Linked DNA regions of Homo sapiens: regions 2, 3, 4 and 5 are each reported to be linked to region 1. The links are microRNA targets in miRTarBase. Many come from high-throughput screens and were not tested one by one. Region 1 holds a microRNA gene; each other region holds the end of a gene's coding sequence.

The links. The annotated mature microRNA hsa-miR-216b-3p reads ACACACUUACCCGUAGAGAUUCUA and lies in region 1 at 2,330-2,353, shown strand. An mRNA with a match to its seed (bases 2 to 7 or 8) in the 3' UTR can be bound and repressed. Matches are read on the target gene's strand: a 7mer-m8 pairs with bases 2 to 8, a 7mer-A1 pairs with bases 2 to 7 and ends in A, and an 8mer does both.
Region 2: miRTarBase lists ZDHHC7 as a target of hsa-miR-216b-3p. Seed matches in the 3' UTR shown: 7mer-m8 at 1,097-1,103, 7mer-A1 at 1,004-1,010 and 7mer-m8 at 927-933.
Region 3: miRTarBase lists SNX29 as a target of hsa-miR-216b-3p. Seed matches in the 3' UTR shown: 7mer-A1 at 4,745-4,751.
Region 4: miRTarBase lists PLS1 as a target of hsa-miR-216b-3p. Seed matches in the 3' UTR shown: 7mer-A1 at 2,289-2,295.
Region 5: miRTarBase lists EMC1 as a target of hsa-miR-216b-3p. The part of its 3' UTR that is shown has no 7-base or 8-base seed match.

The regions. Positions count from the first base shown.
Region 1 is chr2:55,998,029-56,003,076 of GRCh38, reverse strand. MIR216B (microRNA 216b) reads left to right here and starts at 2,282; the gene lies at 2,282-2,363. The region is part of intron 2 of MIR217HG (MIR217 host gene); the gene reads left to right. The region is part of intron 3 of LOC105374690 (a long non-coding RNA gene); the gene reads right to left.
Region 2 is chr16:84,973,620-84,976,619 of GRCh38, forward strand. It overlaps ZDHHC7 (zDHHC palmitoyltransferase 7), which reads right to left. Exons shown (of 8, transcript NM_017740.3): 8 at 556-2,900. The coding sequence ends at 2,724. Among named protein-coding and RNA genes, the nearest start is that of ZDHHC7, 36 kb to the right of the region's middle. RefSeq lists an enhancer at 2,712-3,000.
Region 3 is chr16:12,567,055-12,572,102 of GRCh38, forward strand. It overlaps SNX29 (sorting nexin 29), which reads left to right. Exons shown (of 21, transcript NM_032167.5): 21 at 1,452-5,048. The coding sequence ends at 1,575. It overlaps SNX29-AS3 (SNX29 antisense RNA 3), which reads right to left. Exons shown (of 4, transcript XR_007064988.1): 2 at 1,106-1,245. Among named protein-coding and RNA genes, the nearest start is that of SNX29-AS3, 42 kb to the right of the region's middle.
Region 4 is chr3:142,711,024-142,716,071 of GRCh38, forward strand. PLS1 (plastin 1) reads left to right here. Exons shown (of 16, transcript NM_001145319.2): 15 at 478-602; 16 at 849-2,641. The coding sequence ends at 984. Among named protein-coding and RNA genes, the nearest start is that of TRPC1, 10 kb to the right of the region's middle.
Region 5 is chr1:19,216,586-19,219,585 of GRCh38, forward strand. It overlaps EMC1 (ER membrane protein complex subunit 1), which reads right to left. Exons shown (of 23, transcript NM_015047.3): 22 at 2,984-3,000; 23 at 1-2,897. The coding sequence ends at 2,718. All of the region lies in intron 1 of EMC1-AS1 (EMC1 antisense RNA 1), which reads left to right. Among named protein-coding and RNA genes, the nearest start is that of EMC1-AS1, 7.7 kb to the left of the region's middle.

The DNA of each region.
Region 1 (5,048 bases):
GAACTCTCTATACTTTCCACTCAATTTTGCGTGAATCTAAAACTGCCCTAAAAAATAAAGTTTACTAATTTTTTTCTTAAAAAAGAGACTTCTCCAGTCCACATCTTGTAAGTTCAGGTTCAGGAGGTAGGTCTTGGTTGGGGCTTGGAAATCTGTCTTCTCCATAAATCCAAAATGTTTCTGATATACAGCCAGCGTTGAGAATCACTGGGTAGATCTTGACCTCTGATCTTTTAAGATGTAACTGTACTGTTCAATTTTTTTTTCAGGTCTTTACTGTCTGCTAGAAATAATCTTATAAATTCATCTGTACTAATGTTGGTGGCAGATAATGCTTAGATATTAAAAATTTGCATTTATAGAAGGGTCTTTTTCTACCTAAGTACTTAAACTAACAAGAGCCCCATATTATAGGCTGGCAGCCTCTAAACAGCCTACTCATAGAGGCAACTAAAATGAGGATTCTGTCTCAAAGCTCTGTTCCATCCATGCCTTCCCATGGAGCAAAGGAACAAACAAGATATCAACAATTGGAGAAATGGCAACTATAATTCCATCATTCACAACTTCAGTTTTCCTTCAAGAGAACAAGTGACACTGTTAATCAGGCCCTGCAAGCACAAATAAACAAAAATAATAATTTGAGAAAAGAAAATGAATGATGGCCTAAGAAGTCTAGTGTTTCTTCCACAACCAAGGTATAGTAGTCTCATCCTTTGGAGCTTTAGATGAACAGACTGAGGATCATAGAGTTTCTAACACAGCCCCTTCTTTCTATGCAACCCAGAATGATGTAGTTCTCTATTTTTAAAAGCAGCAAAAAGGATGGAAGTGTTCTCCCTTGAAGCCCAGATGTTTTCTATCTTTCTAAGCTGCAATTATTTCAACACATTATTTTAGCTACACTTACATCAGATCAGAGCCACCTGTTATATCCTCTGCACACTTATGAGAGATTTACTGTTAAGTTTCTATTTATGGTTTATTTAGGAAAGTCAGAATGCAATTGAGAGGACGCTTTTAAAGTCATCTTGAGGTCCAAGGATGTGTGTATAGCAGATTAACAGATAATCAAGACACTGTGTTGTGTAGTGTAAACATAATCAACCCTAATTTTGTGATTCATTATTACATAAATTTGGACGTAACCCGGACTAAAAAACTCATCATCTGAAATTCAACTACATGCCTGAAAAACATAATATAACATTGTTATACTTTAAGGAAGTTATTAATCTACTCCTAAACCAAGTATTACAAAAAATTGTATTATAATGCATTTTATTGTAGGAGGATTCTTTATTACCAAGATTTACATATTTAAATATTCTCTCATTTTATCTTGTCTGAAATTAAATGTCACTGTAATATCAATAAAATATGTGAATATATATATATATATTTCCTTTCTAATGGTAAACAAGTATTTGCAAAAAACATCCTAAGTAATAGCCAATCATTAATAAATGTTTACTGAGCACCTCCTATAGGCCAGGAATTATTCCATGTGCTGGGATATAGAAGAGAACAAAATATATGAAGTCCCTGTTCTAGGAAAATGTTGGAATAAATTTATAGTTGACATTGACCCAAAACCCGACATTGTAGTGTTAATAATATCACAATATTCACAAGTTAGATTTTTGAGCTCTAAAGTAAATATTGCATATCATGCATTATTCCAGCACTTTAAAGATTAGCAGCAGGTGATGGTATTATCATAAGACCATTATTAGGCAGAAGAAAGATGGAGAGAATAAAAGTAAAAAGCACATCTCCTCATTCTACTCATCTAATCTTGTTATTACTTAGGCATAACTAAATTACAAAAGACTAAGAAACTCAACTGCAAAGTCTAACGTTAGATAAAATTGCTTGAAATGCAAGGATATTTACCTGGATTGACCATAAGGCTTTTGGTGTGACTAACACACTGGTAAAATAAGCACATATGAAACAAACAGCATAATTTGAGAAAAAAAAATGAATGATGGCATAAGAAGCCTCGTCTTTCTTCCATGACCAAGGTATACTAGTCTCATCCACTGGTTGTGGCTTGGGAAACTTCACTTTTCATCTTTTCCTTCATTCTCTATGGAGATGTGTGGCAAAATTAGAGAGTATCCATTCTCATTTATGCACCTATCTGAATCCCAGCTATAACTCCTACTTCCCATCAATTTTAATCTTGAATAAATATAGTTTTAAAATTTAGCAAGACCAGAAAGATCACTGTAGAATGACGACAACTTTTTTCTATCTTAAGTACAACTTCAAAGTGGCAGACTGGAAAATCTCTGCAGGCAAATGTGATGTCACTGAGGAAATCACACACTTACCCGTAGAGATTCTACAGTCTGACATCTTCAAGCATCGAACCATTTCATCAACTATGCTTTTGTTATAAGCAGTTCTTTGGCCTGGAATAAATCTAGCATGGCCAAAAAGCCAAGCTATAGCCCACTTACTGAACTTTAACTTCTTCTAAACCAAGGTGACTACATGCCTCGTGATGGTTGAATCCCACTAAATTAAATTTTAAAATAAGAAGGTTGTTTGTAACATGGCTTAAAGCAGTTGTTGTCAAAGTTTGATTCCCAGACTAGCATCAGCAGCGTCACCTAGGAACCTGTTAGAAATGCAAATTCTTGCACCCCACTAGAGGCCTCCTGAATCAGAAACTCAGAATGGGCCCTGCAATCTGTGTTTCAACAAGCTTTCCAGGTAATTCCGATTCATGCTCAAGTTTGAGAACCACTGGCTTAGAGAGAGCAAAAGATTATAACTGGAACACTAAAATAATCAGACAAAATAATATGTATTCATAAAAATATTGTCTAGAATACATTTCTAAAGTAGTGGTCTTAATAAGTATAAGCATTAATAATAATGGAAAGAAACATTTTCATTTAACTCTTACTTTGCCAATAGAATTGCTCAGATGTACTTATTTCCTTAGAAATAAGGAGTTAAGAAATCTTATTTAAGAGGAGAAAACGTTTTCATGTTTGGGAGGATTAAAAGGGTACTGACATCATTCAAGTCATGAGCCATAATTCTTATTAGATTTTATTGCTACATTCTTCGCACAGCTTTGGAAAGTTATTCCTAAGAGCACAAAATATGCACTTAGACTGCACACAGAGAAGGAAAATGCTCTCACAATGAAATTATTTTAGTCTGGCCCAGTAATATTTGAAAGACTCAAGATTTGTTCTCTCTGAAACATATCCTGTCAAAATAAGAGATGTTTGTTTAAATTTATAGTTTTCAACATCCTTTATAATTTTCCCTCCTAAGTTTAATTTGTCTGTAAGCAATCCAATTTCTATATACTAAAAAAATTATTTTCCCTTCTCCTCTAATATAATAAAAATGTCATGACTAAAAGGTAAAACAAAAAATAAAAAGTATTAAAAATTATTATTGAAATTGGTCTTCAATGACAATGAATAAAAGCCATAATTTGATTTTTATATATTTATAATAATGTTATGTATCTGTTAGTATCTGAAACATTGGTATGCCTGTTAATCAATAACTTCTGGTAGCATGTTAAAAATTCATCTTCAGTTTCATTCTTAGTGAATTCATTTGGATTATTTCTGGACCACACCAATTTCCCATGATGTGATGGAAAAAATTGTAACATTCAAAAATTGAATTAGATCACACACAAAATGTCAACTCACTCAGATTATAATAATAAGGTTTGGCTTGTTCATTGAAAAGTGGAGCCCAACTATGTCTAGAGTCTGTAAACTCAGTGCTGGAGATCAACAAGATGTTTTAGACACTTCACCACTTCAGGTGACCTGAAAGAAATACATTTCCTTAGATGAGGATAAGAAGGCTCTCCAAATATCAGGTTTCTTTGCTTTCATTGGATTTAATTCAACTCAATATTGATGCAATTGCTAATCAGAAGCTCCAACTAACAGTCTAAAATGCCTTTGATAGTAACAAAAGAAAAAAATTATTAACCATATATGCAATTTGTTACACAAAATATTTCAAAACATGAGGTTTCATTAAAGGAAACAATAAAAACATTGCTAGGAATTTAGCATCCTCCCAGGCAGTAGGAGTGTTTTAAGTATTTGATAACAACGACCAATAGTCACTATTGCATGAAGCACTCTACACATATTATTTAACTTAGTTTTCTCACAAACCCAGTGAAGAAGGTATTATTGGCACTCCTATTTTATAGTCCTTTTTTTCTCCTAACAAAGAAATTGAAGTTCAAAAAGACATAAATTGGAAGGAAATAAATTACCTAAATGTGCATAATTCTACATCTCAGACAAAATAGCACAGAGGAACAAGCATGGAACTACAAGTCAGGAAACTTAGGTTTTATGTTGTTTGTTTTTGTTTTTTCAAATTTTTATTTTGAAAAATGTATAGACTTACAAGCAGTTAAAAAATAATAATACAGGGGTTCTATGTACCTTCACTCAATTTCCCCCAACGGAACATCTTACATAACTATAGTAAAATATCTAAACCAGGAAATTGACATTTATACAACCCATAGATCTTATTCAGATTTCACCAGTGTACAAGCACTCATGTGTGTACATGTGTATAGTTCTGTGCAACTTGCCACATGTAGATTTGTGTAACAACTGCCATAGTCAAGATACACAATTATTTCATCACCACAAATATCCCGGTGTTACCCCTCTCTAGTTACACCTATCTCTTTACCCTCTTGATGCCCCATCCCTAACTCCTGGCAACCACTAATCTGTTTACTATCTCTATAATTTTGTCATTTTTAGAATGTTTATAAATTTAATCATATAGTAGGTAACCTTTTGAGATTGAATTTTTTTACTCAGCTTAATTCTTTTGACATCCATCCAAGCTGTTGCATGTATCAATAGTTTGTTCCTTTTTACTGTTGAGTAGTATTTCATGATATGGATGCAGCATAGTTTGTTTAATGATTCACCCATTGAAGGACACTTAGTTTGTGTCTGTGTCTTGGTATTACAAACAAAACTACTACAAACAATATAGTCTAAGATTATTGTGTGAGC
Region 2 (3,000 bases), not on the chromosome of region 1:
TGCTTTTTTTTATGGGCACCCTGCTTTTTGTGTGCGGCTCCCAGGCTACCCTTCAAGCTATTTTCCCCTGCTTCCATACCCAAGCCAAGTTCATGTACAATAGAAGATAGGATTTAGCCACCTTCCTATTTGGAGGATATTTTTGTTTTGTTTTAATGCAAGCGTCATCCTTCTATACAATGAGCCTACATAACAATCTAATATAAGGAATACAAATAATATTGCAGCAAAATTCGGCAGAGCCACAAACACAAGCTGGAGGGCTGCTGCCCATGCAGCCGCCCGGCTCAGGTGTGCGCCTCCGTGTTCGAGTCTCCTTCTCATTTCCGCGTGTCTGGAATGCCACCAGGAGCCCCAAGGCACAGCACGTGCGAGGCAGGGCTGCGGCACACACTGACCATCTGGCCTCTGAAAGGTAAGCGAGGCAGGGCTGCGGCACACACTGACCATCTGGCCTCTGGAAGGTAAGTGGGCATTTTGGTTCCCTCAGTGCAAATGTTAGACAAATTTGTTGAATGAATTAAAATCAAATTGTAGGTACTTGAGATTCTGAACTGTGGAGATTTTGAAACATTGTTTTTATTTCAACGTGCACTAAAAAAAGGACTAAGTAAAACGATGGGAGTCGAATTAAACATTCAACAAGCAACAGTACTCACTGGGCAACATTTGTGAGTCGCGCTTGAGTGCCCAGGTCACTTGTCATGGGCACAAAAGCATTTAGAGTTTCTGGAAACTGTTTGGGAGTGACCTTAACAGCCTGGGGCTGGGCCCACGAAGCACGGAAAGGCACCCCCTGAAAACACCACCATCCAGGAAGAACGGGCGCTTTGGAAGCCATTTGAGAACTGTTAATTGATTACTTTATTTCATATAAAAGTTACATTGAAAGAAGAGGTTGAAAAGTCAAGTATACTTGATTTGCACACACTTGCCAAGTCTCACAGGATTCAACCACTTGGATAATTGTTTTATTGATAACAGGATATACATATTAAAAGCCTCACACTGAAGCCCACACGCATGTCCAACCCAGACAACAATGTGCAAATGAATATGCAGAACAATCTCGGAAACTGGCGTCTCCAGGATCACCCACACTTTGTCCCTCTGGCTGTGACGCAGCTCTTCCCCCAACGGCGCACACGCTTCTGCGGTGACCAAGTCCACTTCCAAACCCCCTGCAGGTTTGCTCGCTTGGCTAGGACGGTGGCTCAGGTAGGTCCCTTTGTGGTTTTGCATCAGCAGTGGTAGAAGCCCTGATTCGGATGGGGTACAGAGTAATTAAAAACAAAAAACAGTTCACAGATGAACAGAAAGGCAAAACAATTCCCAGGAGGGAGACGCCAACTTCTCTTAGTGTGGAGGGCAAGCATAAAGGAAGACCCTCAGACTTTGTCACAGATTGCTTCTTGATGCGTCCGGCAAAAAATGTACAAACCAGGCAAGTTTAAGGCAAGGCCCCACGAGGGGAGCTGTTGGCTTTCTGGCATAATTTTAAGCTCCGCACCAAGGATCCTATTTTATCACCTGTGCCGTGGGTGGAGAAGAAAACGTAAAAGCTAACCAAAAACTCCAACAAGAGGGCGCCATCCTGGCCATTCCCGACTGGAGCGCTGCCTGCGGTGGCACAGTCGCCCCTGCCAGGGGCTGGCTGCCTCATGGTCCCCTCCCCTTCCCAGAGGTGCCCAATGGCTGGGCCCTGCCTCTCCAGTAAGGATGCCTCCCCTGCCCCACACACAGCATCGGGCTGCCCCAAGTATCAAGTCACCGAGCCGCAGCTCTGCTCTTACCTAGGTGCCATTTATACACTGCTAATTTGGCTGGAACAAAAAAAAAAAATCAGTTCCAAGGCCCTCAAGCACTCAAGATTTCTTTAAAAAATGAAAGCAGGAGGGCAACGAAGGGCCGCACAGGAACGGCTGTTCTTTGGATCGAGATGTCCTCCAACAGCAATACATTCATAGTAACCACGGGCAGGACCCCGCGGCTCTCTCCCCTCTTCCCTGAAACGTCGGTTTCTAAAAAATAGCTTGTTTGCTGTACACAGCCGGTAAATGTTACATTGCCTAAACAACACTGGCAATTTTGACACACATGCACACACGCGCGCACACGCACAGACACGCACACACACAGACTTGCTGAGAGGGTCAAAGGATGTCTCTTCCGGGGCAGCGGGGAGTGTGCCGGAAGCCACCTTCACTGTTCAGTGCACAGATCTTTTGCAACTTCAGTGCAAAGCATCGGAGCTAATCGAGACCAAAACGTCTTTCTATGTAAACGCCCTGCTGTGATCCGGGGAGTGCACTGCTGAGTGGCGGGGTCAGCAGGAGCCCCCTGAAATGACTGCTTGGAGAATCCCTGTTCACTGGATTCACTGTTTTTCTTCATGATTGGAAACAGCAGCTCAGGACCCAGGATTTGAATAACCCATGTAATAACCCGAAGTATTCTCCACAGAAGCCCCAGCTCTGCAGGAGGCCACGGCGTTTGGCTTCTTCGTGTGGCCACACACCTTTCCGTTGTTGTACAGGTGGGGACTGAGAGCCTCTTCCTCTGCCATCTGTGACTATAAATATATAAAACTCTGCTTGCTGCAAGCAATTGGTTTGTGTAGGTTCCAGTTGCCCTGTTGGTCACAGATGAGCTGTTGATATCCTTCAGACCCCAAATAAATAACTGGAAGTCTGTGAGCAAGTTTCAGTCTGATGAGCCACGCCTCACACTGAGAACTCCGGGCCACCTTTTCTGGGTCTCGTGGGCAGTCGCCTAAATCGGAAGCCCACAAAGGGATTCATCCAGAGGAGTGAGGGGGGCCCCCCAAAGACGGACTTCATCCCTTCCCATCGCAGCCTCCGCTCCCATGTGGGCTTCTCACTTTTCAATCGCTCGATCTCCTGGAAGCAGAAAGAAAAGCAAGTGGCAGCGGCTCCAGGAAGCTCGGCAGACCCCACCAAGCCTCAGAATCACACCGTGCTCAAGCACAGTGTGGGCTCG
Region 3 (5,048 bases), not on the chromosome of region 1:
GCTGTTTCAGGGAACCCTGCAGGGATCCTCGAGGGGAATGATTTCTTTATGAATGCAAGTCTCTTAACTCACATGATTTGTGAAACTGGGCTTGGATACAGCTGGGGGTGGATGTTCCTGATCTGACATTCTCACTTGGCATCTTTGGTCCTTTCTAAACCACAGATAAGGCAGAGCTAGCTGTGGACACAGTCCTGTCTTCCCTTGTAGGGTCCAGTGGATCCAGGACTTACATCCAGCAAGCCACAGCAGCACAGAGGTGCTGCGGACGCAGGAGTGGACATGGATCCTGTTAGGTTTTTGCCTTGTTTTAAAACATTTTATCCCAGTGAGGTATTTACTTCCTATTCAAATAGCGTATAGTAGGCAGAGTAAGAACATTCCTAGCCCCAGAATTTATGTGTCCCCTTATCTAGCAAAAGGGACTTTACAGATGTGATTAAGGATTGGCCAGGCACAGTGGCTCACACCTGTAATCCCAGCACTTTAGGAGGCTGAGCAAGAGGATCACTTGAGACCAGCCTGGACAAGAGCAAGACCCCATCTCTACAAAAAATTACACTCAGGTATGGTGGCTAGTACCTATAGTCCCAGCTGCTCAGGAGGCTGAGGTGAGAGGATCACTTGAGCCCAGGAGATCGAGGCTGCAGCAAGTTATCATTACACGATTGCACTGTAAAACCTGGGCAAGAGTCGAGACTGTCTCCAGAAAATACAATTTTGAAAAAATGCAACCACATCACAGGACTTCCTGCTGAGCACCCTCTGCTCTCACGGTGAAGCCTCCCAGCCTCTACCCTATCCCCTAAAAAATGTGCCGAGGGCCTCCCACACAACCCAGACCCATGCCCTGGGACCCACACACGCTGTGTGTTCGCGTTGCTTCAGAACCAGGATCAGTGTCCCCCTCTTGGTGTTATCTTCCACTGTTCCTGGCTCTTAAACACAATACCATGCCAAACAACCTTTTAACTAGCCCCTAGCCTAGGGCCTGATTATTTTCTTAGGATTAATTCCACAGGAAGTCCGTCTCCTGTGTTTTGCTACGCATCTTGTGTGGCTTTATGTAGTGTTCTCCAAAGTTGCCTTGGACTTAGAAGCGTACCTTTGCTGGAAAATCAAGGAAAATGTGGGGAAGAAAGCTGTGCCTAGAACATTCTTTCATAGCCTTAAAATGTAGACCGGAACGGTGGTACCATGAGCTAGCTCAGACTCACAGCCAAGCTTGGTTGGAGCCTCGGAGTGCTGTTAAAAAAAAAAAAATGGAAAGGTTTACGTGACAATAGGGGTTTCTCATTTCTTCAGGTGGCACCAGTTAGAGGCAGATCCAATGAGCCAGTCACAGTTGCCAATCAGATCCCTCCTGCCCTCACACCTGGCTCCCCTTCCTGGCCTGTGGTCATTTGCTTTTCATCCCCAGACTTAACCCGATTCTCTCCCTGCTCTTTCAGCGACATCACCCCGCCCGGAGAGCCTGTGAACAGCCGGCCCAAAGCAGCTTCCCGCTTCCCCAAACTGTCCCGGGGTCAGCCCCGGGAGACCCGCAACGTGGAGCCCCAGAGCGGTGACCTCTGACCTCGACAAAACCGCAGCCACGGGCCCTGTGCGTGGCACCAGCTGCGTCCACCCCAGCCACTGCCGCTGGCCCCTCACCTCAGCGTGACAACCACGTCCACCTGGTGATCCTGAGAGCACACGATTCCCAACAGTTACACAACACCCCGATTAAACTAATCAGTCTTCGAGCCGCATGATACCGTGACCCGAGAGACCAAGGCAGCACCTCGCTGGAGAGACTGGGACACACAGTCCTTCTGCTTCTGGGGTCTACCCTGGGCTGCAAGGGCTGTTCCTCCACCTTTCTGTAGTTCAGGGCTGGCAGGAGGGTGGGCACCAGGTCAGGCTGGGTGCGCCATGGTTGAGAGGCAAAGGTGATCCCCTATATAGGAAGGTTCATGCAGAGCCAGCCTCTCCACTCTTTCCCACGTGGGGACTAGAATGACTATTAGCCTCTCCTTTTGCTTTTTAAGGTTATTACCTGGCCTAACCTAGGGATGGCTGGCTTTGCGGGGGGGGGGGGGGGGGGGGGCATGGTTCCTTTCACTGCATTTTCCACCAACAGTCATTAGACACCTGGCACTGTCACAGCTCACTTTTCCAGAGGGATATTCCTGTGGCTTTGGCAAGGAGCCATTAGTGATGTGCAACTTGAGTTCAGAGAACTTCCCCTACCTCCCCCATGGCTGGCTTCAGGAAGGACCAGTGCCCTCCATAGCCTGAGGCCACCTAGGCCCTCGCCAGGCTTGGAGTGGGGGGACTCAGACATCTGGCCCAGCCATCAGCAGCAACCTAGTAACCCGGCGTCATCCAGCGTGTCCAAAGTAGCATTGGCCCTACAGTCATGAGAGACTTGGGTCAGGGAACCACTGCAGAAGGTTCCAGGGTTTTCAAACCAGGCTCCATGACTATGAAGTTGGACCCAGTGTGGACACTTAACAGATCATGTGTCTCTCCACTAAAAACATTTTCCATCCCGTCTGCCCCCGACATTGTCCTTGATAACAGAACTCTGCATCCCCTAAGACAGAGTCCTCTGTTCCTCCCATGTCAGGTGGCTCTCAGAGTACAGGGACCTTGGCAGGTGGAGAGGAGGATGGGGACCAGCAGCTGGGCAGCCCCCAGGGCTCCTCCTCCAGTGAGCTCACATCAGAGCACCTCACAGAGCAATAGCCGTCCTCAGATGCTCAGCAAAGTTGTGGCAGTTTGCATTTCTAGGGTAAACTAACTAGGAAGGATGTCGTGAAATGGACTATGCAAGAGTAAGTTTGTGTGTTTCGCCTTAATCTGAGGCAGAGACACAGCAGAACCTGAGGAGAAAAGCAGGTGGAAGGTGACGGTTAGATGGTAAGCCATGGGCTTGTCCTGGAACTGCTTCAACTCAGTGGCTTAAAATGAGAACTGCCCAGGTGAGCATGGAGCATCTCCTAGGCTCGAGGACATCTCTGGAGAATCATCTGGAAGGTTTATACTGTGCCTTCCCCTCGTAGCAAAAAGGAAGATTGTTCATGGCCTTTAAGGAAGGCTGAGATCACTCACACACAGCGCCCCCCCACCCCAGAGAAACCGAGTCAGCCTACATGACTTCCAAGGGGACCTGGGGCCAGATAAGCCCTGCCCCGGTGAGACCAAATGAGCTGGAGCATGTATGGAGGTGCGGACCCTGCAGTCAGTTTGCGAGTGTGGAGGACCCGAGACATCCTGTAAAGGCAACTTGGTCTCCCTCCCACTCACCTGCCAACATTGCTGCAATACACATGGTTTATCTGAAATTCCAAGGCCAGAGTGCACATCAGCTCACATGACTGGCAACTCTAAATAGAGAGCCCTAATGGACTGAGGCAGGAAACGTCTAAAAGCTCAATCTGCTGTATGTCATGACCCCTTAGGTTGGGTTTATGCCACATCGGTCATTTTGAAGTAGGTGTTTGATGCCAGCTCAGAGACTGTCTCAGGAGTGCCTCCCTGGCCTGGGTAGCTACCCTGGAGGTCATCTCCCTGTTCTCTGTTGGATAAAGGAACCTCCCCCATCTGTGACATTCCCTTGGGCCCAGGCTTATGACCTGCACCTTTTCTGACACCTGCCCCCAAAGCACAGGATGTGAATTGGTCTCTCTCCAGATACCCCACGAGGAAGCACCTTGGACATTCTGCACATGATAATAATGCAACAGTCCCCCATTGCTGAGAGATACTAACCCGTGAGAAACAAGTATGCTCTCAGCTGGTATTGAACTGGTGGGAGAAACTGCCTCCTACTTTTATAATACTGAATTATTCACAAAAAACCTGGTCTGCTCTCCAAAATGAGAGCATGTTCCTGGGAGCCACATGGGGACCATCCCCAGCTGCCTGCTCCTGGTACCTCCCCCATGATCATGCACAGACCGTAGAGTCGAGTCATCTCGCAGATCCAGACCATCTCCTCTCATTCTCACTCTAAAAATGCTGGTGGCCCGCACATGACAGCAACTCCCCGAAGCCTTCCCTTTGGAATCCCATAGAATGTTCTGCAATGATTGGGTCCATCTTGCTGCTCAGAAGAATCCCGTCCTGCTCTCTAGTGTGGTGGGATGAACTTCAGGCAACAAACAACTGGCAGGGTTCCCAGTTCCTGGAGTTATGGAGCAGAAACACCCAGGCCTAGCAGAATTGTGGCTGAAACCTGGTGCCCAAATTCCACACCCTGGAAATGTGTCAACTGCCTGTCAGCCTGGATTCAATTCTGAGGGCTAAGCCACGACCTTATCCATGAGTGGCGAAGACACCCCTGAGGAAAGGATTGCTTGCACCTCACATCTGTCTTCTTCTAAGATTACTCGGAGATTTTCAAACAACATCTGAGAACAGAAGCCCCCTCCCCTACTCAGAGAGGAACGAGGGTGGCCCACCTCTCAAGGGCCTTGGATTCCTGGGACCACCCTTTGCTGGGAGGAAGAATCCACACCGAATCCTTCTGTCTTCATGGCCTGCTGTGCTGAAACAGAACAGCAGGTTCCATCTTTCACATCTTTTTTTCTCCCCCAGATGAAAGACGACTCAGGAACGGTAGGGCTGGGCAGAGGTGTCTCTCCTTGAGAGACAACAAAAGCTTCTAAGGGAGGGAGCTTAAAGGCTGCTAGAAACCTAGCCCAACCATCCACTCCTGATCTGAGACAGAACCTTCTCCGCCACTCTTCCTGCAATCAGTGTGAAATTCCAGCTTCTTTGATTCCCACTTAGCAGTATGCTCCAATCACGTTGCTGGCAAGGCATTTTAGAGTTTGGAGCTGAGGTTCAAAGCCCCCTGCATTTCTCTACTGGCAGGCCCTGGTGAAGGAAGACACTTTCAGGGAAGAGGCTCTTACAGTCTATGGTGGTAGCCATCTTCACATCCAGTCACCAGTTGCATCTAGGGAGCTGCTGGCTATAAAAGGGATCATCCAGTGGAGTTGTAAACAAGGGAACCATCTTGCAAGATCTAGGAAGAGGAAGGGGAGGGATGTGGACTG
Region 4 (5,048 bases), not on the chromosome of region 1:
AAAGGTGGATTAAATAAACTAAAACATGTAAAACAACAAGACAATGTCTTTGTAAGTGTTAGTTCCCTTTCACTATTTCATTTTTCTTTCTGAAAAATATTAAGGGAAGGCTTTTGGATTCATGGTCTAAGAAATATGTGAGTAGAATTTATAAAATTGTTAATTAAAAATTCATCTATTCCCTTTCAAAAGTTTTGTATTTTTTACAGAATGGACACTATAGTTAGCATACTTAGGAGCTATCATGTCCACAAACCTTATTCAGATATGGTGACAACTCTATATTATATATAAAGATTCAAGGAAAAGTATATTTTAAAGGGTTTATTTATGTGTGCTGGTTGCAGAAAAGCTGAACGTTAGGTTAAGTACAAAGAATTTGTAGATTGCCTTCAGTTATATGATCAGAAGAGTCTGAAAATAATGAAAATTAAAGGTCAGATGTTTATGAATGTTCATCTATGCTTTATTTTCTAGGATAAATCTATAAGCACAAGTTTACCTGTCCTAGATTTAATAGATGCCATTGCACCAAATGCAGTTCGTCAAGAAATGATCAGGAGAGAAAACTTATCTGATGAGGACAAGCTGAACAATGCTAAGTAAGCCTTTATGGTTTATATTACAATACATGGCCCTTTAATTCTCTAAAATCCTTATAGGAAAAGTTACTATGCCCTTAAAATTCATATTTTTAAATATAACTTATATGTGAGTCTTAGATTTAAGACTCACAAACTTAACCTTTTCGTAAAACTAATCTTGTCAAAATATTTCACTCTTTTGTTAAAATATGTTAAGTGAAAACACAGTGGATAACACCAAGATATTTTTCTTGTCTCTTCAAGATACGCCATTTCAGTTGCTCGAAAGATCGGTGCCCGGATATATGCATTACCTGATGACCTCGTAGAAGTGAAACCAAAGATGGTTATGACGGTGTTTGCATGCTTAATGGGAAAAGGACTGAACAGAATAAAATAATCATTTCATATGATTTTCTGCCACATTAAACATATTGTATGCCTCACAGTTTACAGGATTCTGAAATGTAGTGGGTGTAAAACCAGAGATTATTTGTATGCTCAAAATAGTTATATATTCATTAATGAATTCAATATCCTGTTCATACTAGTTAGAGCTGGTCAGCCTTTTTGGGTAACACAGTTAATTTACCAACTGATACAGATAATAGAATATATTCATAATCAAGCTGATACTTCATGATTAAATTATTTTTGTTGCTTAAAAGTCGTATTAGACAAGACTAAATCATTCTTTTTTATGGTTCAAAAAAGATGAATACAAACGTTTTTGCAGGTTCTGCTGTGAAATGTGGTTTGATTTTTTTGGTGTGTTAATTTTGATCATAAATGCATTCATACTCATAATCCAGTTTAATCCTTTTATTTGCTTCCTCCAACTATTTAAAGTGGTCCAAAAACACTTTTCTGTAAGTTTCTATACTGTCTAAAACCTTATGGTGACCAGAATTGTTTATTAATATCAAACTTTTTTATATATGAGAACTAATTCTTGAATAAACCCCAAAGTTCACTCTCTTGTTTAAGTAGCAGCAGCTTTTTACTTAAAATTTAATTTTAACTACATTGATACTTTACACATCCTAGTTTGGTAACACAGCTTTAACTATGTCATGCAACATATATATGTTGGTAGGATGTTATTAGAGAGATATGTGTGCATATATATTTTTTTGCACCTGAATCACCCAGCTTTTCATAAGTGGTATGTTTAATTGGTCATTCAGCCAACCATCAGTATTTTCCCCCCACAACATGTGTAACACTTTTCAGTCTGTGGATATCTGATACATTAAGATTTCTTTTTATAAGTATTCATTTTGAATGTGCATATAGTTATTTGACCCCTTCCAAATACTTGTAGCCAAACATTGGCTAGAACATCCCAAGATATGCTGACACTGTCCTGTTAGCTTCATATTATACTTGCTAGTTTAGGTCTCTATAGAAGCCCTATATAATTTAGAATATGCCCACTGAATATCTTTAATAGAAAGTAACATAAAGCTAGTATTCAATGTAGAGTATTTTCATATGTTTTTCACAGCCCGTTACAAATTGGCAATGTTTGGTTAATGTTTGTATTACTTGGAAATCGCTACAGCTTGGACTATTTTTTTCTAAATTTTTAGCATTAGTCCATTTCTGCTGCTAACAATTGAATCCAGAAATCTACTTTCTCCATCTTCCACTGTTAGTGCCAGTGAGCAATACTGTTGTGCAACAAAAATGTCACTTTATCTCAGTGTGAATGAGTAGTCTAAATTCCCTTTCTACCATTGATTTAAATATATATATTGGTAAGAGAGACTGCCCATGTGTTTAGAATAGAATTTTTTAAATGAAATGATCAACAGGTGGAATTTGAAATATATTCTTCTACAAAAGAGATTTCTTTCCCTTTTATATTTTGATGATTGTTTTCTTAAGATTAAGATATGTTCTTGCTCTTTTATAAGATTATTTAAATTATGTTTCCCTCTGATTTTTTTTCACCATTGTATTTACTAAGTTATTGGATTTACATGAAATCTGGCACTTTAGGGTGTTCTTTTTCTCACAGAGTATATTTAATAAAAATGCTGTGTATATAGAAATGTGTTTATATTTATTTCATTTGAAGAAAAATATTCAGCCTTGAAAATTAGTCTAGCATAAGCTTATTTTCCAGAAAAGAAAAGAATTCCTAAATGAGTTAGTAAAACAAAAAAAAAATTGTGTCTGATTTCTTTGAAGATGAGGGTAGTTCTTTTGTTCTTAAATATGAAGAATTATTAAAAACCAACTGTGTGATTACTACAATTTAGTTTGTGCTGAAATAATTCAGGTGAATCAATCCATTCACAAATTTATCATTTATTATGATCCAGATACTATGCTAGACACTGGGGATTCATCTGAAAAAAATACAGATGAAGTCTCCTGACCTCATGTATCACATCCATGTATGATATCCTAGTAGAGAGACAATTCGTAAATAGGAATTTTAGACAGTGATAATGCAGTAGAAGAAATAACATAAGGTAATGTGATAGAGACTGACTTGGGAAATGGAGTGGAGATTATTTGTATTTGGGTGGTCAGGGAAGGTCTCTCTAAGGATATTTGTGCTATAAGTGTTCAGCAGAGAGAACAAATGTAAAGAACCTGAAGCAGGCAGTCCTGTAGGCATCCTAGAAGACAAACAGGTGAACATGACCTGAGAGTACTGAGGGAGAGGCAGAGTCTGGAGATGGAGATGGAGTCTAGGGTATTGTAGGACTAGATCTAAATCTGGATTTTTTTTTTTCTTCTCTGACTGGAGTCATGACTGCTCTTTTGTATATGTGGTTTGGGTAAGCTGCTTGAAGTAATATGCTGCTTCTGAATCTTGGATGCTACTGTTCATCATAACTCTGCCACTGGTCTCTGTATCACCTGTGTAGAAAAAACTGATGATAGGCTGCATAGATTATGTTAAAATACCCCAATTTATGCTGGATAAATAGTGTACCAGGCCAGGCACAGTAGCTCATGCCTATAATCTCAGCACTTCGGGAGGCCAAGGTGGGAGGACTGCTTGAGGCCAGGAGTTTGAGACCAACCTGGGCAACATAGACTCTTGCTACAAAATTTTATTTATTTATTGAGACGGAGTCTCTCTCTCTTGTCCAGGCTGGAGTGCAGTGGCACAATCTCGGCTCACTGCAACCTCTGCCTCCTGGGTTCAAGTGATTCTTGTGCCTCATCCTCCTGAGTAGCTGGGATTACAGATGTGTGTCACCATGCCTGGCTAATTTTTTTTTGTGTTTTTAGTAGAGACAGGGTTTCACCATGTTGGCCAGGCTGGTCTTGAACTCCTGACCTCAAGTGGTCTGCCCGCCTCGGCCTCCCAAGGTGCTAGGATTACAGGCATGAGCCACTGGGCCCAGTCCTCAATTTTTTTTTTTAATTAGATGGGTGTGGTGGTGTGCACCTGTAGTCCTAGCTACTCAGGAGGCTGAGGTGGGAGGATTGTTTGAGCCTGGGATTTCGACACTATGATGAGCTATGATTGCACCATTGCACTCCAGCCTGGGTGACACAGCAAGATGCTGTCTCTTAAAAACAACAAAAAGTGTATCAGAGAGGTAAGAGAGGATTTCTGCAGCTGAGATGATCCAAAAAGACTTGTGAAGAACAGGGTGCAGTTGCAACACTGGCTTAGTTTGAAGTAGGAACAGCACCCCCACCCCCAGCACTTTGAAAGGCCTCCTAGAATTATCTACCAAAGTAAGTTGGGATTCCCCAGTCTTAGAAATTAATCCAGCCCCTATGGGAGTCCTCTGGATAAAGAATCATCTAGGTCCAGCAACTTGCAAATGCCTCGGATTAAAGTGAAGCTATATCTACATCGCGCTCTATCTCGCTTGCTCTCCTGCTATATCACATGTGCGACATAGTTCTGAGCCATCTAAATTTTTTCCCTCAAACACGAAGTTTTGGGTACATCAGGGTTAGTGTTTTTCTGCTACTAACTAAAAATTGTGCTGCACTACAGAGAGTGTAAGCACACACGCATAAATACAAATATGTGCCACTGTTCACTGGCCACAAATTTACAGGAACAATCTTGACATTCCACCAAATAAACTTGGAACTGTATTAAACATTACAAAATGAGGAAGATTTACCATCTACTAGGGATAAGACAGAAAACAAACTCAATAGATTATCAACTGTTTTGAAGTAAATACATGAAAATGTTTGGAAAGACGGTCTGCTAAGGCCTCTTAGAAAAGACCTAACAAAGACTTTGAATTATGAGAAAGTTGTATTTAGGAAATTTTGGGAGTTAACGTGCTGGCTGAGACAGGGATGGAACATACCAGCCTGAACAGGATAGGGAGTATTTCCTCCAAATATAAGATACTCTGAAGTAAATTTATGTATTCTTTTAAAAACCTAAAACTTTAAAGGCACAATTTAGAGTTTTCTATATGATTATGGGAAGCAACAGGAATTATTCAAGAGGCGGAATTTCCA
Region 5 (3,000 bases), not on the chromosome of region 1:
ACAGAATTAAATAGCATCATCTCATTTAAGAAAACACTGTATACAAGAACAAACACTAGACTACCAGTGCTCATATACGTAATTAATGAATACTAAAACAAACTAGTTTTTGTTTTTGTTTTTGAGCCAGGGTCTCACTCTGTTGCCCAGGCTGGAATGCAGTAGCATGTTCATGGCTCACTGCAGCCTCGACCTCCCAGGCTCAAGTGATCCTCCTACCTCAGCCTCCTGAGTAGCTAGGACCACAGGCACATGCCACCAGGCCCGGCTAATTTTTTTTTATTTTTTGTAGATAGAGTCTTGCTATGTTGCCCAGGCTGGTCTGGAACTCCTGGGCTCAAGAGATCCTCCACTATGGCCTCCCAAAGTGCTGGGATTATAGGCATGAGCCATCACGCCCAGCCAAATCTTTTTACGTGAAACACCATGGGGCCCCAAAATTAACCTAATTAATGAAGACAGGAGAAGAGGTAAGTCAAGGAATACACACAAAAAACAAGGAATGACAAGAAAGCAAATAGATCAGAGAATTGAGAGAGGAAACATAGTCTCAGCAGCCATTAGTGGAGACTGAGTGTAGCTGCTCAGAACCGAATGCTGCTTTAAGATTAAGGAAAGTTGAGAACTAAGAAAAGATTTAAATTGGACTGTGGCATTAGCATTAACTATTTTAAGCACTTGGCCAAGCTCGGTGGCTCACACCTGTAATCCCAGCACTTTGGGAGGCCAAGGCCAGCAGATCACTTGAGGCCAGGAGTTCGAGACCAGCCTGGCCAACACAATGAAACCCCGTCTCTACTAAAAATACAAAAAATTAGCTGAGCGTGGTGGCACATGCCTATAGTCCCAGCTGCTTGTGAGGTGGAGGTTGCCGTGAGCCAAGATCGTGCCACTGCACTCCAGCCTGGGCAACAGAGTGAGATTCTGTCTCAAAAAAAAAAAAAGCACCTGCTTTGAGGTAACTTTGATTACAGCTGAAATACAGGGAATTTTACTAAAGGACAAATACCTTCCCTCCCAGTAGCTTGTTTCAGATTCTGGCACACTGGTAAATAAAAACTAGAATCTTGCAGGCTAACCTTGCACATATGTATGTAAGACAGTCAGAATTCCAGCCAGGCTTTCTCAAAACTAGGGCAGAATTTTTTTTAACTTGTACTTAACTCTCTTCTCCCAGGTTATGTTAAAATATGCCTTGGGTCAGGATGATAGATGCCTGTTTTTTTCTGGAGATTCTTAGACATTCAGTCACTCAATATCAAACTGACAATTAATAAAATGGTTGTCATTTCCTCTTCCTTCTCTGCCATAATCTACCATCAGCATATGACCATAGAAAGATGACAAATTTTTAGATAACCTAACCAACCCATATATGATTAAACTGACCTTTCCTTACTAAAATAAAATACACTTACTCCATGTCTTCACTGCTTTTATCCCCTCTAATGTGAAAATAGCCTCAAAATGATCTTCTAAGACACAAAAGAGGACTTAAACAGTGTCATTTGTCACTTGCTTTATGCAAACATTCGAGTGTACCTCTTTCACCACAGGGCTAGAGATGGTCTACTCTGTACATACATTTCACAACAAAGAAAAATTCTGTCATTCCCCAACTCTATGACCAAGGAAAACTTTTAGGATTTCTTTAATTTGTAGCAGAGACACAGTGGCCTAGCCAATCGGCAGTGCTATACACACAGTATGCCAGTTTCCCACCCCTACCCTCTTTCTCCTTTTTTAAAGCTTCAAAGGTTAGATCAATAAAATTTAAAATTTCCTCATTTAAGGAGAAATATAATGACCCACATGTTAATTTATATTAAAAACTAAAAATAAATAATGGGGTTCTTAAACAAGGACATCTTTAACTAGGTTATGATTAGACCAGCCTGTGGGTGAAATGAGAGATTATCTCTTCTCCCTGGAAATGTCTTCAAGGCTCAGACAATTCAGTAGTTTTTAAAAGGCCCCAACTCACACATCTCAGGTGAAAAGTATAGGCAATGGGCAACAAACAAGACGCTAGTATGCACTTGGCTTCTGATAAATTGAAACAAAGATTTGGTGGCCCAGCCTAATAAATGACAGCACGAAACTAGAGGTTTAAAGTAAGTTTTGACATCACATATAGATCCCTCAACCCTAAGTTACTTTGGAGGGAAGCCATGAGAGGCTGGATCAGTCCTCAAGCCTCAGCTAAGGATGGATCCTATTTCTTCCCAGTGCAAAACACCAAATGTACCTATAAGGTGGAGTCGGCAAGGAGAGTTCCCCTCTTACTTTGAAGCAAGAGATGGAAAAAGTCAGAAAGATTTCTAGATAAAATTGAGAAACACAAAAGGCAAAGTAAAGTCAATTTAAACAGGCCTCACAAAAATCAGCCGGAATTCTTATTAAAAAAAACAAAACAGAACATTCATGGATGGGCAAAGAAAGGAAACAATGCAGACGCCTTTGGACTTCAAGAGAAAGCCCATCAGGAATCTCTGAGAGTGTCAGCTGAGAGAGTTCTGTCTCTCTCCATGTAGGATCCTTTCTGCATCATGTATATCCCAAAAGGAGTTCTGCGTGAAGGTCATCCATCTTCCCTACAGTTCTTAGCTGAGCACTGACACACACACATACTCCACCAATCCACCAAACTGCAGCTGTAGCTGCTTATCTGACCCACACTCCCCTGGCTCTCCACTTTTAGGCACAGTCTTTGTTCTTTATCGCCAGGCCCGATTCAGGAGCTTCACCTGTGCCAGTCTCTTAGTGATCATGGTGGCAAAAACCAGGCCAAAGAGGACGCTGCTGATTAACACGTAGTCATAGTCATCCTTCAGAACGTCAAACTGCTTGGATGGGTAGACTCGAGTTTGGTAAATGTCCAAACCATAGGCCACAACCTGGAAGGCAGATGGAATAAGAATTAGGAAAGAAACAACCAATGATCCACCAAGGGTGAAATAGGGCAGCTGTGGGCTCTACTCACCAAACAAGTGGACTCCA